Homo sapiens: one gene and its partner. The protein of the gene in region 1 interacts with the protein of each later gene in a pairwise test. Each region holds a gene or a part of one and is shown on either strand. Other genes may lie near its edges.

Region 1 (7,270 bases):
AGTTTCAAGTGATTCTCCTGCCTCAGCCTCCCAAGTAGCTGGGATTATAGGTGTGTGCCACCACACCCTGCTAATATTTGTATTTTTAGCAGAGACAGGGTTTTGCCATATTGGCCAGGCCGGTCTCGAACTCCTGGCCTCAGGTGATCCGCCCGCCTCGGCCCCCCAAAGTGCTGGGATTATAGGCATGAGCCACCGCGCCCGGCCTTCTTTTTGTTTTGAGATGGAGTCTCGCTCTGTTGCCCAGGCTGGAGTGTAGTGGCACAATCTTGGCTCACTGCAACCTCTGCCTCCTGGGTTCAAGCGATTCTCCTGCCTCAGCCTCCTGTGTAGCTGGGATTACAGACGTACACCACTACACCCAGCTAATTTTTGTATTTTTAGTAGAGATAGGTTTTCACCATGTTGGTCAGGCTGGTCTTGAACCCCTGACCTCAAGTAATCCACCTGCCTCAGCCTCCCAAATCATTTTTTTATCATTGAATAATATTCCATTTTATGGGCAGTTTATTTATCAGTTGAAGGACATTTTTGTTGCTTCTAAGTTTTGGCACTTATGAATAAAGCTGCTATAAACATTTGTGTGCAGGTTTTCGTGTGAACATAAGCTTTCAACTCATTTTGGTATATACCCAGGAGCGTGATAGCCAGATCATATGTAAGAGTATATTTACTTTTGTAAGAAACTGCCCAGCTGCCTTCCAAACTGGTTGTACCATTTACATCTGACCAGCAGTGAATGTGAGTTCCTATTTCTCTATATCCTGGTCAGCCATTAGTGTTGTCAGTTTTCTGATTTTGGCCATTCTAATAGGTGTCATATAGCGGTGTCTTTTTTTTTTCTTTTTGTTGTTTTAATTTGCAACTCCCAAATGACAAATGATGTTGAGCGTCTTCTCATATACTTATTTGCCATCTGAACATCCTCTTTGGTGAGATGTCTGTTAAGGTCTTTGGCCTATTTTTTAATGGTTGTTCATTTTCCTATTGTTGCGTTTTAAGAGTTCTTTGTATGTTTTGGATATATATCCTTATCAGATATATATTTTTCAAAGATTGTTTCCTAGTGTGTGTCTTGTTTTTTTGTTCTCTTAACAGTGTCTTTCACAGAGCAGAAGTTTTTAATTTTAATGAAGTCCAACTTAGCAATTTTTTCTTTTGTGGATTATGTTTTTGGCATTGTATCTAAAAGGTCATCACCAAACTCAAGGTTACCTATATTTCCTCCTATGTTATCTTCTACAAGTTTTACAGTTTTGTATTTTACAAGTAGGTCTGTGATCCATTTTGAGTTAACTTTTGTGAAGAGTTTAAGGCTTGTGTTTAGATTCTTTATTTTTTTGTATTTAGATATCTAGTTGTTCCAACATTATTTGTTGAAAGACCCTCATTTCTAAATTGAATTGCCTTGGCTGGGTGCAGTGGCTCACGTCTGTAATCTCAGCACTTTGGAAGGCAGAGGCAAGTGGATTTCTTGAGCCCTGGAGTTCAAGACCAGCCCGAGCAACATAGCGGGACCCCCATCTCTACTAAAAATAAAAAAATAAAAAAATTAGCTGGCACGGTGGCTCATGCCTGTGGTCCCAGCTACTCAGGAGGCAGGGGCAAGAGATTTGCTTGCGCGTGGGAGGTTGAGGCTTCAGTGAGCCTTGATTGTGCCATCGCATTCCAACCTGAGCAACAGAGTGAGACCCTGTCTCAAAAAATAAAATAAAACAAATTTCCTTTGCTCCTTGTATTTTTTTCAAGGTGAAAAAAAAGACTTCTTTCTGGCTTCCATTACTATATAGATGGTAGTGCCACTGAAATTGGGAATACAAGAGGAGCAGGTTTGGAGGAGGAAGATAATGAATTTAGTTTTAGATACGCTGATTTGGAAATATCTGTGGACCTTTGGTATTTTCAAAGAAGCAATATCCTTTCCTAGATTTCAGGAGTATAAGAAAATGAAAGATCATTTAGCTCAATGCTATGTGTATACACAAATGGAAATCAAGTTATCTAGGCTAGATGCACAGTCAGTGCTAAAAGTCAGCCTGACTTCTCTCCATTCAGGGTTCTTTCTACTGCAGAGAGAGGGCTGCTCTGGAACCACAAGGAGCCCTTCTGAGAGGTTTTGCCATTGCCCTTGAAATACAAATCTAACCCTAGCTTGTTCAACTCTGCTGCAGTTCCAACATAGTTCCTGGCCTTTCCCTGTTATTATAATGGCCTTTTACCATATCAAATTCAGTTTGGGGTTTAGGAGGTTATGACACTGTAACTGTTTTTGGGTTGAGAGAGTAATCTGCTCATTTAACCCTCTTATAGTCTGGAAGGCAAGGTCAAGGAGACAGTGCACAATGCCTTTTGGGACCATCTTAAAGAGCAACTATCAGCAACTCCCCCTGACTTCAGCTGTGCTCTTGAACTTCTGAAAGAAATTAAAGAGGTGAGTGACCTTCCATTTGTAAATGTAAAGTTTCTAGACATCTCCAGCTCATTGGAGTGTCAGTGGCTAGCAAATCTTAACTGAACATGGTCCATGAATCAGTCAGAGACTAAGCAATAGACAGAAATCATACAGTAATTTTAGCAGGGAGGGTTTAATATAAAAATTATTATAACAGAGAGTAGGAGAAATGAGGGCTTGGCTAGTAAGAGTAAGGAAAACTAAAGAATCCTTGAATATCAGATAAAAGGGCATCTATCATACCCTTAGGGCTGAGAGAGGCCAACCAAGGACCTCATTTGAGAGGGCATAGCTATGCCATGAGACGTTACTGGCCTGTGTATGCTGCTGACCACAGTGCACTGCAGGAACCAAGCACTGGAGAAGCTATTCATGCTGCAGGAGCCAAGTACTGCAGGAGCCTGCTGAGTGAACATACCAGAACCGGGAATAAAAGCTCTTGCCTTTGCAATGTCTTTCTAGTATGTGGCAGACATACCGTAAGGTGACCCACAATGTTCTGCACCCTTGTATAATCTTCTCCCCTTGAGTGGATGAGATTTGCAACTTCTAAGCAGTACGGCAAAAGTGATGGGATATAACTCCCATGATTACATTTCATCATGTAATACTCTGTCTTAGGAGACTGGAGGGAGAGATTCTCCTGCTGGCCCTGAAGAAGCAAACAGCTGTGTTGTGAACTGCCTATCGAGAGGGCCACATAGCAAGGAGCTGCAGGTGGCTTCTAGGACCCGGGGTTAGCATCCAGACAATAGCCAGTAAGAAGCTGGGGCCCTCAAGTATACAGTTGTGAGGAAATGAATTCTGCCAACAATCTGAATGAGCTTGGAAACGGAATCTTTCCCAGTCATGTTTCCAAATGAGAATGCAGCCCAGCTAACACTTTGCTTGCAGACTTGTGAGACCCTGAACAGAGGACCCAGCTAAACTGCGTCTGTACTTCTGACCCACAGTAACTGAGATCATAAATGTGTGTTCTTATAAGCTGCTAGGATTATGGCAGTATGTTACACAGCACAGAAAACTAAATAACACTTTCTGCCGGTGAAGCTTAAAATGTGCTATCTGGCAAAGGAAAGATATGGAAAGGACTTAGTTCCATTTTCACAGAGCAAAGAACAATGGATTTGGATCTGTGAGGCAATATATTGATAAATGGCACAGTCCACCCCTTCGGCTACTCAGTTTCCACATGCGCTCTTCTATACACATTTGAATTCCTGAAAAGAACTCTTACAAGACAGATAGCTATTTATTATTTATCCTCCCCCAAAATGAGGAGACATGGCCCAAATAGTTATTGTATCCATCACTGGCCGCTCCTCAAATTCAGCCAGTTTCACTGACTATTGTGTTACCTAAAGGCTAAATCATAAAATTTAACTTCTAACAACTTGTATATAAAATAACAATGGAAAGAAAGAGGAAGAACAAAATGTTGGCATATATAAATAAACATACATATAATAAGCAAAGATAAAATTTATAGTCCTTGTTTCCATAACTGGTCACAAGGCTATAGTTGTTATCTATGGCTTCCTTCTTCCACGATTCATTCATTCCATATTTCCCTTGTCCTTGGCCAGAACTTCAGCTAGTTGGGGTTCTTTATCTGGTGCAGTGACCCAAACCTTCATTGCCAAAGAGTCTGAGACATTTTGCTTTGTTTGTTGTGGTTTTCCATTAACCTTTAATATTGAGCTTGGAAGTACTAAGAGGCAACTCAGAGAATCTCCTGAGTTTCAGGCATGGTCTTTCTTACCCCCATTGTGTGGCCACAATCCAATTTCTCATTGGTACTCAGGAGCAAGTACGGCATCCAGTACAGTAACTCCTTTTTTTACCCTTTTGGTTCAGTGGTATAAGGAGCCCCCAATGGTCAGTTTCATCTTCTGTTTCATTGGAACCAATGCAAGTATTTCACACAAATCAGCAGACCTCAAAGTTGGCAGGATGGGAAACAAAAATCCTGCAAGTGGGTTATCAGGTGTGCTAGTAAGAGGAAGCAGTCCTACTTCTACTGCTTGATTCCTGGACCCATGTATTCTGGCATTAGGGGACAGCACCATAGAATGGTCTTTGAAGCCAGGCACAGTGGCTCACACCTGTAATCTCAACACTCTGGGAGGCTCAGGTGGGCAGAATGCTTGAGTCTAGGAATTTGAGGCCAGCTTGGGTAATGTGGTGAAACCCATCTCTACAAAAAATAGAAAAATTAACTGGGTGTGGTGGTACATGCCTCTATTCCCAGCTACTCAGGAGACTGACACGGAAGGATTGCTGGAGCCTGAGAGGCACAGGTTGCAGTGAGCCATGATTGTGTCACTGTGCCCCAACCTGGGCAACAGAGCAAAACCCTGTCTCAAAAAAAAAAAAAAAAAAAAAAAAAAGTCTTTGATTCAAAGCATATATTGCATCCTGTAAGACCAATTCCCTTCCTTTCAGGTATTGTTGCTCACCTAATGCTGTAATTGAGTCTAAAATAAGCCATTCTACTTTTTAGTTAGGGCCAGCTGATTCTCAGTGAAAGCTTTTTGGTCAGACCAGTTAATTTAGTAGGTATGAATTCACTGCATTTCCTTTGCTGTGAAATGAGTTCCTTGAGCAGATGCAATGCAATGGAGTAGGCAAAGACCCAGGACAGCTGATAAGGCATTCTGTGATTATCTGGATGCTGGTACTGACAGAAGCATGGCAAACAGGGAAGACAACTCCATATCCAGAATATGTGTCTATCCCAGTAAGGATGAATCTCGCCCTCTCTAAACTGTTAGAGGTCCAGTGAAATCATCTGCCATAAGATGGCTGACTGATCCTCCCTGGGGAATGGGCCATATTGGGGGCTTTAAAAAATTTATTTAATTTTTTTTAGGATTTGTTTTTGTTGTGGCAAAATATTCATAACAAAATTTACTATTTTTTAGTGTTACAGTTCACTGGCATTAAGTATATTTACAATATAACCATCACCACTATCCATTTCCAGAACCTTTGAATCTTCCCTAACAGAAATTTTGTACTCATTAAACAATAATTTCCCTTTCCCCTCTCCCACTAGCACCTGTACTTTCTGTCTCTATGAATTTGACTACTCTAGGTACTTATAAATGGAATACAATATTTGTCCTTTTAGTTTTGGACTTGTTTAACTTAGTGTAATGTTTTAAAGGTCCATCCATATTGTAGCATATATCAGAATGTAATTCCTTTTTATGGCTGAATAATATTCTTATTATATGGATAGAATACATTTTGTTCATACATCTGTTGATGGACGTTTAGGTTCTTTATGCCTTTTGGCTATTGTAAATAATGCTGCTGTAAACCTTGTGTACAAGTATATATTTGAGTCCCTGCTTTTAATTTTTCTGGGTATATACCTAAAGTTGGAATTGTTGGATCCTATGGTAATTCTATGTTTAACTTTTTGAGGAACTGCCAAACTGTTTTCTGTTGTAGCCACACCATTTTATATTCCTACCAGCAATGTACCAGGGTTCCAATTTCTCCACATCCTAGCCAGCATTTGCTGTTTTCCATTTTTGGTAATGGCCATTCTAATGGGTGTGAAGTGGTATCTCATTGACTTGCATTTCTCTTAATGGCTAGTGATATTGAGCATCTGTTCGTGTGTTTGTTGGCTATTTGTACATCTTCTTCAAAGAAATGTTTACTCAGGTACTTTGTCCATTTTTAAATTGGATTGTCTTTTATTGAATTTTATGCTTTTGGTGTCAAATCCTGCCAAATCCTAGATCATGAATATTTACACCTATGTTTTCTCCAAAGAGTTTTGTAGTTTTAGCTCTTATGTTTAGGTCCTTTTTTTCTTTTTTCTTTCTTTTTTTTTTTTTTTTGAGACAGAGTCTTGCTCTGTCACCCAGGCTGTAGTGCAGTGGTGCGATCTTGGCCACTGCAATCTCTGCCTCCCTGGTTCAAGCTATTCTCCCACCTCAGCCTCCCAAGTAGTAGCTGGATTACAAGTGTGCACTATCACGCCCGGCTAATTTTTTGTATTTTTAGTAGAGATGGGGTTTCACCATTTTGCTCAGGCTGGTCTCAAACTCCTGACCTCAGGTGATCCGCCTGCCTCGACCTCCCAAAGTGCTGGGATTACAGACGTGAGCCACTACCATTTTGAATTAATATATATATATATTTTTTATTATACTTTAAGTTTTAGGGTACATGTGCACAACTGAATTAATATTTTTATATGGGGGTAAGGTAAAGGTCCAACTTTGTTCTTTTGCATGTGAATATCCTGTTTTCCCAGCACCATTTGTTGAAAAGACTGTCCTTTCCCCATTGGTTCTTGGCATTGTTGTTGAAAATCATTTGACCTTATATATCCAGGTTTTATTTATCAGCTCTCTATTCTTTTGGTCTGTGTATCTGTTCTTATTACCAGTATATGCTTGGTCTCTTATAAGCCATTTTCATTTGATAATAGATTGCTGCTGTGCATGTCCAGTCTTGTAGCTACGTAAGTTAGACAATACCTAATTCCTGATGGGAAGCTTAGGCCACATGGTTACCCAGTGTTCTATAGTAAGGTGTTTACTTTCTACCAAGGCCCAAGAAGTTGTTTCTCAAAAGGTGAATAATTATCATTAAAGAAGGAATAGATTTGCTCCCAATTCCTAAAGGTCCATGTGTGGTTCCCTTATTGGTGCTTGCAAGACATTCTGTACAGCACCCTTATTTGCTATGGACACTTAAAGTGTCATTGGATCTGCAGGATCATAAGGCCCAAATGGTAGAGTGGCTTGTACTACAGTCTAAACTTGCTGCAGAGCCTACTCTTGCTCTAGTTAG
Region 2 (8,197 bases), on another chromosome or scaffold:
TGGCTGCTGGAGTACTGAGAGCCATGCACCAGAATCACAGTGCCACCTGCTGGACATAGGTACCAAGCACACCCTTTTTAAAAGGACAGCTATTAACTCCTTAGTTAACTACTCAACACTTTGAAATTGATTGCCAGACCCATAAAGGCCTCAGGACTCCCTGGCCTAGTATTCCCACTTTGGGGTGGGTCAATGGGAATCTACTGATAACAAGGGAAGGGTTTAACAAGCCTCACTGATCCTATGGAAATAGTACATTCAAGAGTACAGCTGGTAATCCCAGCTATTCAGGAGGCTGAGGCAGGAGGATGGCTTGAGGTCAGGAGTTCAAGACCAGCCTTGGCAGGATAGTGAGAACTCAGCTCTTAAAAAATCTGTTTTAATTAGCTGGACATGGTGGCACGTGCCTGTAGTGCCAGCTACTCAGGAGGCTGAGACAGGAGGAGCCCAGGAGTTTGAGGATGCAGTGAGCTATGATTGTACCACTCCACTCCAGACTGGGCAACAGAGTCAGATCTCATCTCTAAAAAAAAAAAAAAAAAAAAAAAAGAGTATAGCTAGCCTGGCCCTAGAGGCATCTTGGTTTTACGTGAAGAAGTGGCAGCTCCCACTCTGGGAGAAACAACCTTCTCTGCTACCTGAAGCCGAGCTGCTGTTCAGTAGGGCCCTTGATTCACAGGGGTTCCTGTAAATGCTTAGGCCTGGCTCACCAATGATTAGGCTGAGTTAAAAGCTGATGTTGCCCACCAAGCAGCAGCAGGCACTTAGCCCCAATGATAACTCTGGATGGCTGATGGCAGTAAGGATTGAAGCATTTGGTATGCCACTTGGAAGACTAAATACTGAGAGATGAAAGCTGAGAAGTGTGGAAACACATCATGGCTGCCTGCCAATAGGACAGACTGGATCACTCACGTAGGTGCCCACACTAAGGGCAGGTACTCTCGTAAGACTGACTGGAATCAAACTGCTGATCCAGCCTGCACCACCAAGACTGCTGCCATAGCCACCTGGATTCATGCAACCGGTGTGGAAACATCTACCATCATGGGCTAGGCACAACGTAAGGGACTACATGTTTCTGAGGCAGAAGCCACCACTGCGTGCCAGACTTGTGACTCCTGCCAAAAGTTGGCCTGCTTGTCTTGCAGTAAAGGAAGCCACATTGCAAGGGGCACTGACCACACCTGCTCCTGGGAGATTGACATTAGGACTTTGTTCCCTTCTCTAGGCTCTCATCAGTACCTTGCTACTGCTGATACTTTTTCAGTTTACAGTGCTGATGTTGCTTTTCCAGTCCAATTATCTGACTCTGTGTATACCACTGTGGCCCTTGAAACTAAACTGCCAGGTTTTCTGCTTTCCAAACCATCTACAGTCTGACACTGGCATATCTTTTTGTCGCAATGGCCACCCAACAGTGTCAACAGTCAATAGCCAAGGTATTCGATGGACCTCCCACACTCCCTACCATCCACAGGCATGACATTGTCAAGTACTGAACAGTTCCCTCAAAGATCAACTCAAAAAGATTTTTGATTCTATGTTTTTAACCTCCTCCTGGTCTGCAAACCTTACTGAAGCAGTTTGGTCACCTAAGGCAGCCATTCTCAGAAATGGGTCATCTCCTTTTGCCTACCAACTGGGTAATGATCAGGAAAAAGGGGTGGAGGGTTATATAAACCTATTTTGAAAATGTGAGATTCTCCCCTGACCATTTCTGGCCATGATTCATCTTTCTTCCCCCTTACAGAAAGCCCAGATCAGCTGGGAGGAGGAGGCTATCTATGTAATTCAGACTTAATTCTAGTTCAGTCACTAGATTGTCTTGTTGGAATGGCCTGGTGCCAGAACATAAAGTTAATGATCATTTGGTTGGGTATAGTGCTTTTAAAGTCCCCCTACAGTGGCCCACATGTGTCAAGGTAGAAGACATAATGGGCCTCTGTCAATTTTCTAACAATTGGATATTAGAAGGCCTGCGTATTGGTAGGGGATAAATGGAGAAAAGGTGAAGTTATAGTTACTAGGGTAGGACACACTCATTATGTAGCAATGGAAGGAAAGAAACAATCCTGGCATCTGGGGAAGGAACACCACAGGACCCTGGAGATGTAAAGAGAAGGGAAACAATGTTCTCTTTGTCCCTATCCAGCACCAAAGCCTGGCAAACATTCACATGGTCCATCTAGGTCAAGCAGCAACTGTGGCTGGCAATCTGACCTGTGGCTGAGTTTGTCATCTCACTATGAAAACATAAAAACTTTATCTAGCAGGTCAGTATAAAAAAGAAAATAAAAAAAGAAAACAAAAACTCACATGGACACGGCCAGTCTTGAACTATTCCCACGTGCCTGATGACATCAACACCAACTCCCAAACGCAGACCTCCCTCATAGGTGTGCAAACACACAGATCAGCACCACCTTCTATCAATGCGGCTGATACAAATCACATGCTTCTCCTGAGATCCTAAGGGCCTTACTTAGGTTATGCCTTGTCTAGTGATTGAGGCTGCAACTGTTCAGTGACACTGCCCATGTGGTTTAAACCACTGTAATGGTAATCAAATTTGATGGTGATCCAAATAAAAATCTAACAAAAATCCTGGAGTGGCCTGCACTCCTCCAAGTAATATGTTAGTGTAAGGAAGAATGGGTCACAAAATATCTTTCCATTAATCATGGTAGTTAATTTTTTTTTTTTTTTTTTGAGACAGAGTCTGGCTTTGTCGCCTAGGCTGGAATGCAATGGTGCGATCTTAGCTCACTGCAACCTCTGCTTCCCAGGTTCAAGTGATTCTCCCACCTCAGCCTCCCGAGTAGCTGGGATTACAGGCACCCGCCATCATGCCCGGCTAAGTCTTGTATTTTCAGTTGAGACGGAGTTTCACCATGTTGGCCAGGTTGGTCTCGAACTCCTGACCTCAGGTGATCTGCCCGCCTCGGCCTCCCAAACTGCCGGGATTACAGGTGTGAGCCACTGCGCCCAGCCTGGTAATTACTTTCTTAAAAAAATTTTTACAAGGGTAGTGGGCTATTGTAATTACTGGTAATGACACCAAAGATCAGAGATCAATCTGAACCCCTGTGCACAGGTCACAGTGGTTAATAGACTGGTCTTAGACTGCAGCCCAGATGTCTGAAATAAGATTCCTCGGTGCCCCCAGGACTTATTCACAAGTGGCTGAATCCAGGACCCTGGAGGGCATGGTTGAGGTAAATACTGTAAGCTGGCCTTATTCTGCTGCTTAGAGTCCCATTGACAACAACCTTAATTAAATGCTGTAAGGGACAAACTGAAAAGATGTGAGTAGCCAGGGGAGTTGTATATTCATGTGAAAATCTGCTAGAAGCCAAGACCATAGAATCGAGGAGTGAGAGAGGCTGTCAGATTGCTCGTGCCTCTACACATCATTCTGGGTATACCAAGAATGCAAGGCCCTGACTGCATCTCACCTGGGCCATTTCTCATGGTTGTGTTTGCAGCAAGCAACTTTGAGAGAAGAGGCAGTGTCTCCCTCCAGGACAAAGAGGAGGTCTGCGTACTGCCTTCTATAAAACAGCAGATTTTCCAAGCTTGTCGTTCCTTCACTTGGATGCAACCCACTGCCTGTGCAGTCATCCATTTAAACCCATAGCGTCACCCTGTGGGACTTGGATGGCAAGGGAAACTGCTTCTAACATGCATCCTATTTCCTGTAATAAAGTCCTTTGTCTCTAACCCAGGAGTCTCATCTTCTGCCAGCAGTCACGACACAATAACAAGCTAATTTATTAATTTCTAAATAAAGCAACCCTGACAGTCTGTTTTCTTGCCTGCTTTTTGCTTAAAGAATTCCATTTCTGACACCCAGTATCTGGATAGTACAAGCTAAAACCTTTAAGAAAATAAATCTCTTCTCACAAGAAGAGTTCTGCCTCATAAAATCCTTTGGTCACCATACCTGAACACCCAAACTGTCCTTGCCCTATAGGATAAAGGTACACAGTTAGGTATTTTCTCCTCTGTTGATGCCTGAAAATCCTGCAGACATAGGAACTCAGGCCTTAGAAAATTCTGTACCCAAAAATTTGCAATTCTCTTTGGAAAGTTGAAAGCACCTTTAAAAGCCACAATTTGCAAGCCAGGTGATGCACTGTAGCATAACCTGGAAGACATGAGGGCTGCTTCCTCAGATACTAAGAATCCCACTGCCCCACCACCAGAGCAAAACGATCCCCCTCCCAGAGAATGCACCTCGCCAGAGGCCAACCCACCCGATACCTCAAGTTCCCCTCCACCGTGGCCCTCCTCCTATAGATCCCGCCCCCTCCGTACCCTCGGGCCAATCAGAGGGCGGCGTCCCGTCGCGGTTGCCATGGTGCCCGCCGAGTCCCTCCCATCACTCACCAGATGTGCGGCGGCTCGTCCAAGCGGTGGAAGCGGGTGGCGAAGGACAGCAGCGTCACCAAGGCCAGCAGGGCCCACCAGCCGACCGCCTCGAAGCGCCGTGAGCCCCAAGCAGGCCGTTTGGGGCTTCGCGCCACAGCCTCAGCGGCCACGTCCCGGCCTGCGGCCCTAGCAGCCTGGGGGCCACAGCGGCCCCTCCGGGGACGCAGCTCGGACTCTGCCAGGCCTCCGCCCGTGGCCGGCGGCATCTTCCCCCTCCTCTGGGTCGCCCTCCGGCCCGGAGGCACACTTTGTCTGACCAGCCGCCCCGCCAAGGAGTCACAAGAGGGCAGCTCGGGGTACCCCGGGAAATGCAACGCCCTTCACTGCAGCGGAGCGCGGGGCCCCGGGCTCGGGGCGGGGCGGGCAGCGTGGTCGCGGCCCGGGCCGCTAGGAGGCGGCAGGAGGCGCAGAGCATGTCGGGACCGGGAGGGCCGGCCGGCCCGGGGCGGGGGGGACTGGGCAGGAGGGGTCGGGCTCAGGGAACTGCAACTCCCAGCAGCCCCCAGGTACGGGGCGTGGCGGGAGAGCTGGGCGAGCCAGAGGCGACCGGAAGGATCTTTCTAGTCCAGCCCCTCGCTTTACCCGGACGAAAGACACGGGCCTGATTCGTCGAGTCTCACTGAGCCTTAGTCGTCGGCAGGTCCCAGGCGCGAAGTTTCTCGGCCTGGAGGAGGGGGTCGCGCGAAGTGCCAGATGCAGGCGGGGAAGGTCTGTGACGCGCACCCGGGTGGAGGGAAGCTGGTTAGACACCTGGAGACCCTGGGGGGCGGGGTCAGAAGTGAGCTGCACCGCCCGCCCAGGCCGACAACGACTCCCGGCATGCAGTGCTTTGCGCCGGGCACGCTCTGCGCCTGCGTGCTGCGCGCTGCCCGCTGGGGCTCGAAGTTCCGGGAGGGTTGGGCCAGAGGAGGCGGTCCTGGTAGGGAGTGCGTAGCAGGGTGGAGTCGCTGTCCGGTCGCGCTTCACTTCTGCTCCGCCCTCCCTGCTCCCCATAACAGACCCCTCCCTCCACTAAGGCTTCCAAACGTCGCCCCAAGCCTCCCAATTTCTCGCAGCCCTTCATGCTCTTCTCTTGGCCCTAGCAGGAGGTGACCTTCCAGTAATGTTTGTATTTTAAGAGTCCCCGGGCCGGGCGCGGTGGCTCACGCCTGTAATCCCAGCACTTTGGGAGGCCGAGGCGGGCGGATCACAAGGTCAGGAGATAGAGACCATCCTGGCTAACACGATGAAACCCTGTCTCTATTAAAATACAAAAAAATTAGCCAGGCGTGGTAGCGGGCGCCTGTAGTCCCAGCTACTCGGGAGGCTGAGGCAGGAGAATAGCGTGAACCCAGGAGGCGGAGCTTGCAGTGAGCCGAGATCGCGCCACTGCACTCCAGCCTGGGCGAAAGAGCGGGACTCCGGCTCAAAAAAAAAAAAAAAAGGCCCCGAGCGAGGAGAGGCAGTCATGACAATCACCTGGGGAGCTTCACGGCTTTCACATGTTCTTCCCGGGGCCTGCTCCAGAGCCACTCTGTTCATCTCTGGTGGAACGGGCTCGAGAATCTGCATGTTTTTATAAGCGGTCTAGATGGTTCTTAACGTGCCATGAAGTTTGAGAACCACTTTTGTGGCACTAAGGAAGGTGGCACGTTAGATGGGACTTTGCGTCACGTTAATAATGTATAGTCCTCCCTCTTCCAAATGGGATTTTAGGAGTCTTTTTCTCAAATCATGTGTAAGACATGGTTTAAAAATAAAATCTGCTAAAGTAATCAGAATGCATATTTGAATTGGAAACACAGGTCTTCTAGGAGTGCTGATGAGATGGATACTTGGGCTTAAAGTTTAGTTCTACAAGTGCAGAAAGGAACGGGGCATGGTTTACATAGTTATCACTGGTAAGAGAAGGCAGAAATTGCCTAAGAGATTTCAGGTTTCCTGCTTGTGGGTCGTGACGGAGGGCAGCAGCATTTACCATGCTTCTGGTCACTCGTAGTACAGATCCAAAGGTGTAATCCAAAGGCATTTAGCCATTAGGTAAGGCATTTCTTCAGGGATTCTAAGCTAATTAATGTCTGCCACACTCTAGTGGTCACCAGCAGTCCCTGTCCCTTGGCACCAGGAGTCCCTGTAGCCTGGCTAGGTAAGGAAAGGGAGTTGCATCTCCAAATAAGGAAGATCCAGTTGTGGCCACCCAATTCCTCCTCTTCGAAAGACACTTTCTGCCCATCACCTGCTTTCTGTGCCAGGACCATCTTTACTTTCTCCACAAAAGGTACCTTCAGGACAGGCTGGGACTGCTGGGCTTGGGAACCATCTTGGAAGGGCCTAGGTTCCCACTTACACCCTTGCCATCTAGCAGACTGAGTTGGTAGTACAGGGATGGCAATAGCAAGTTCAGAGAGCAGCTTAATATGCTAGGGGTGGCAGAGGGGAGAGGGAGCTTTGGTGAAATGTCTATAGTCAGAGGGGTAGTAAACAGGGCATCTGAGAAGTTCTTTCAAGTTCTCCCCTATCCATAGGGATACACATGTTTTGGTGGGAAGATTCATGAGTGCTAATCACTGGCGAGTCTTTCCTGGGTTCCACTTTGAAATGCTGGCTCCCGAAGAAGTACCAGAGAAATTAACTTTGAGCCCCTTAAACCTTGGAGTAGAGATCGCACACCCAGCTGCCCCCAAGGGCCCAAAGGTAACAAAAATGAGAAAAGTGGGCCAGATATGGGCCATGGCAGACCTGAGAGCGCATACGCTGGTTGATGGGGGCCATTAGTCTGTTCCCATCAATTGCTGCTATTTAGGAACCCAAATCTGTCTCCAGATTTTTTTAAAGAAAAAAAACAAACAGGTGTTGTATATAAAATATCATGATTTTTATTTTTATTTTATTTTATTATTTATTTATTTTGAGATGGAGTCTTGCTCTGTCCCCCAGGCTGGAGGGCAGTGACACGATCTTGGCTCACTGTATCCTCCGCCTCCTGGGTTCAAGCAATTCTCATACCTCAGCCTCCCAAGTAGGTGTGATTACAGATGCACACCACCACACCTGGCTAATTTTTGTTTAGCCATGTTGTTTCGCCATGTTGGCCAGGCTGGTCTCGAACTCCTGACCTCAGGTGATCTGCTGGCCTCAGCCTCCCAAAGTGCTGGGATTACAGGCATGACCCACCATACTAGAATGAAATGTCCTGATTTTTAAACATTGGCAACTACTTGAAACATTTTAAACTACTGTGTTGAGCAAACAGAAATTCTGAGGGCCAGATAGGGCCCCAGTGAGCTGCCAGCTTTTGACCTCACCTTTGGGGTGAGTGAGCATATCTGCCAGCTGTTTTTATGGGGACAGCCGAGAGCCCGGAGGACTGCTGGGAGGTGGGGTTGAAGGAGATATGTACCAAAGCGTCAAAAAATTAGAATTCCTTGTCTTGCTGCATTGCTAGAGGATGCCCTGCCATCATTTTAGGGCAACCTTTGTTTTACAAATGAGGGAGCCGAAGATTTAAAAAGGCAGAGGTTTGTCCAAGGTCATGCAGAGCTGGTTCCTGCACCAGGTCCAGACTCCAGATGCCAGCTCCCAGCCCGCTCCACCACTCAAAATACTGCATCAAAACCAGGCCACGCTCTGTTGGGGGGACACCAAACCTGGCCCCAGCAGGAGCGTAAGAAACTTCCTGCGAGTTGGAAAAAAATGCCTTTTTTTTTTTTTTTTTTTTGAGACGCAGTCTCGCTCTGGAGTGCAGTGGTGCGATCTCGGCCCACTGTGACCTCCACCTCTCAGG

What was found.
Region 2: the proteins of TCP11 (region 1) and GSTZ1 interact in binary tests that used the Homo sapiens proteins (3 or more experiments, as listed by UniProt).

The regions. Positions count from the first base shown.
Region 1 is NC_000006.12:35,124,223-35,131,492, reverse strand, and holds part of TCP11 (T-complex protein 11 homolog), read left to right. Parts: intron 1-2,310; coding exon 2,311-2,431; intron 2,432-2,701; exon of another isoform or gene 2,702-2,915; coding exon of another isoform or gene 2,916-2,936; intron 2,937-3,073; exon of another isoform or gene 3,074-3,210; intron 3,211-7,270. UniProt on the Homo sapiens protein: Plays a role in the process of sperm capacitation and acrosome reactions. Probable receptor for the putative fertilization-promoting peptide (FPP) at the sperm membrane that may modulate the activity of the adenylyl cyclase cAMP pathway.
Region 2 is NC_000014.9:77,316,042-77,324,238, forward strand, and holds the start of GSTZ1 (maleylacetoacetate isomerase), read left to right. Parts: upstream 1-4,994; 5' UTR 4,995-5,127; coding exon 5,128-5,142; intron 5,143-5,225; exon of another isoform or gene 5,226-5,522; intron 5,523-6,505; exon of another isoform or gene 6,506-6,691; intron 6,692-8,197. Other genes in the region: POMT2 (protein O-mannosyl-transferase 2), read right to left, coding at 4,393-4,640.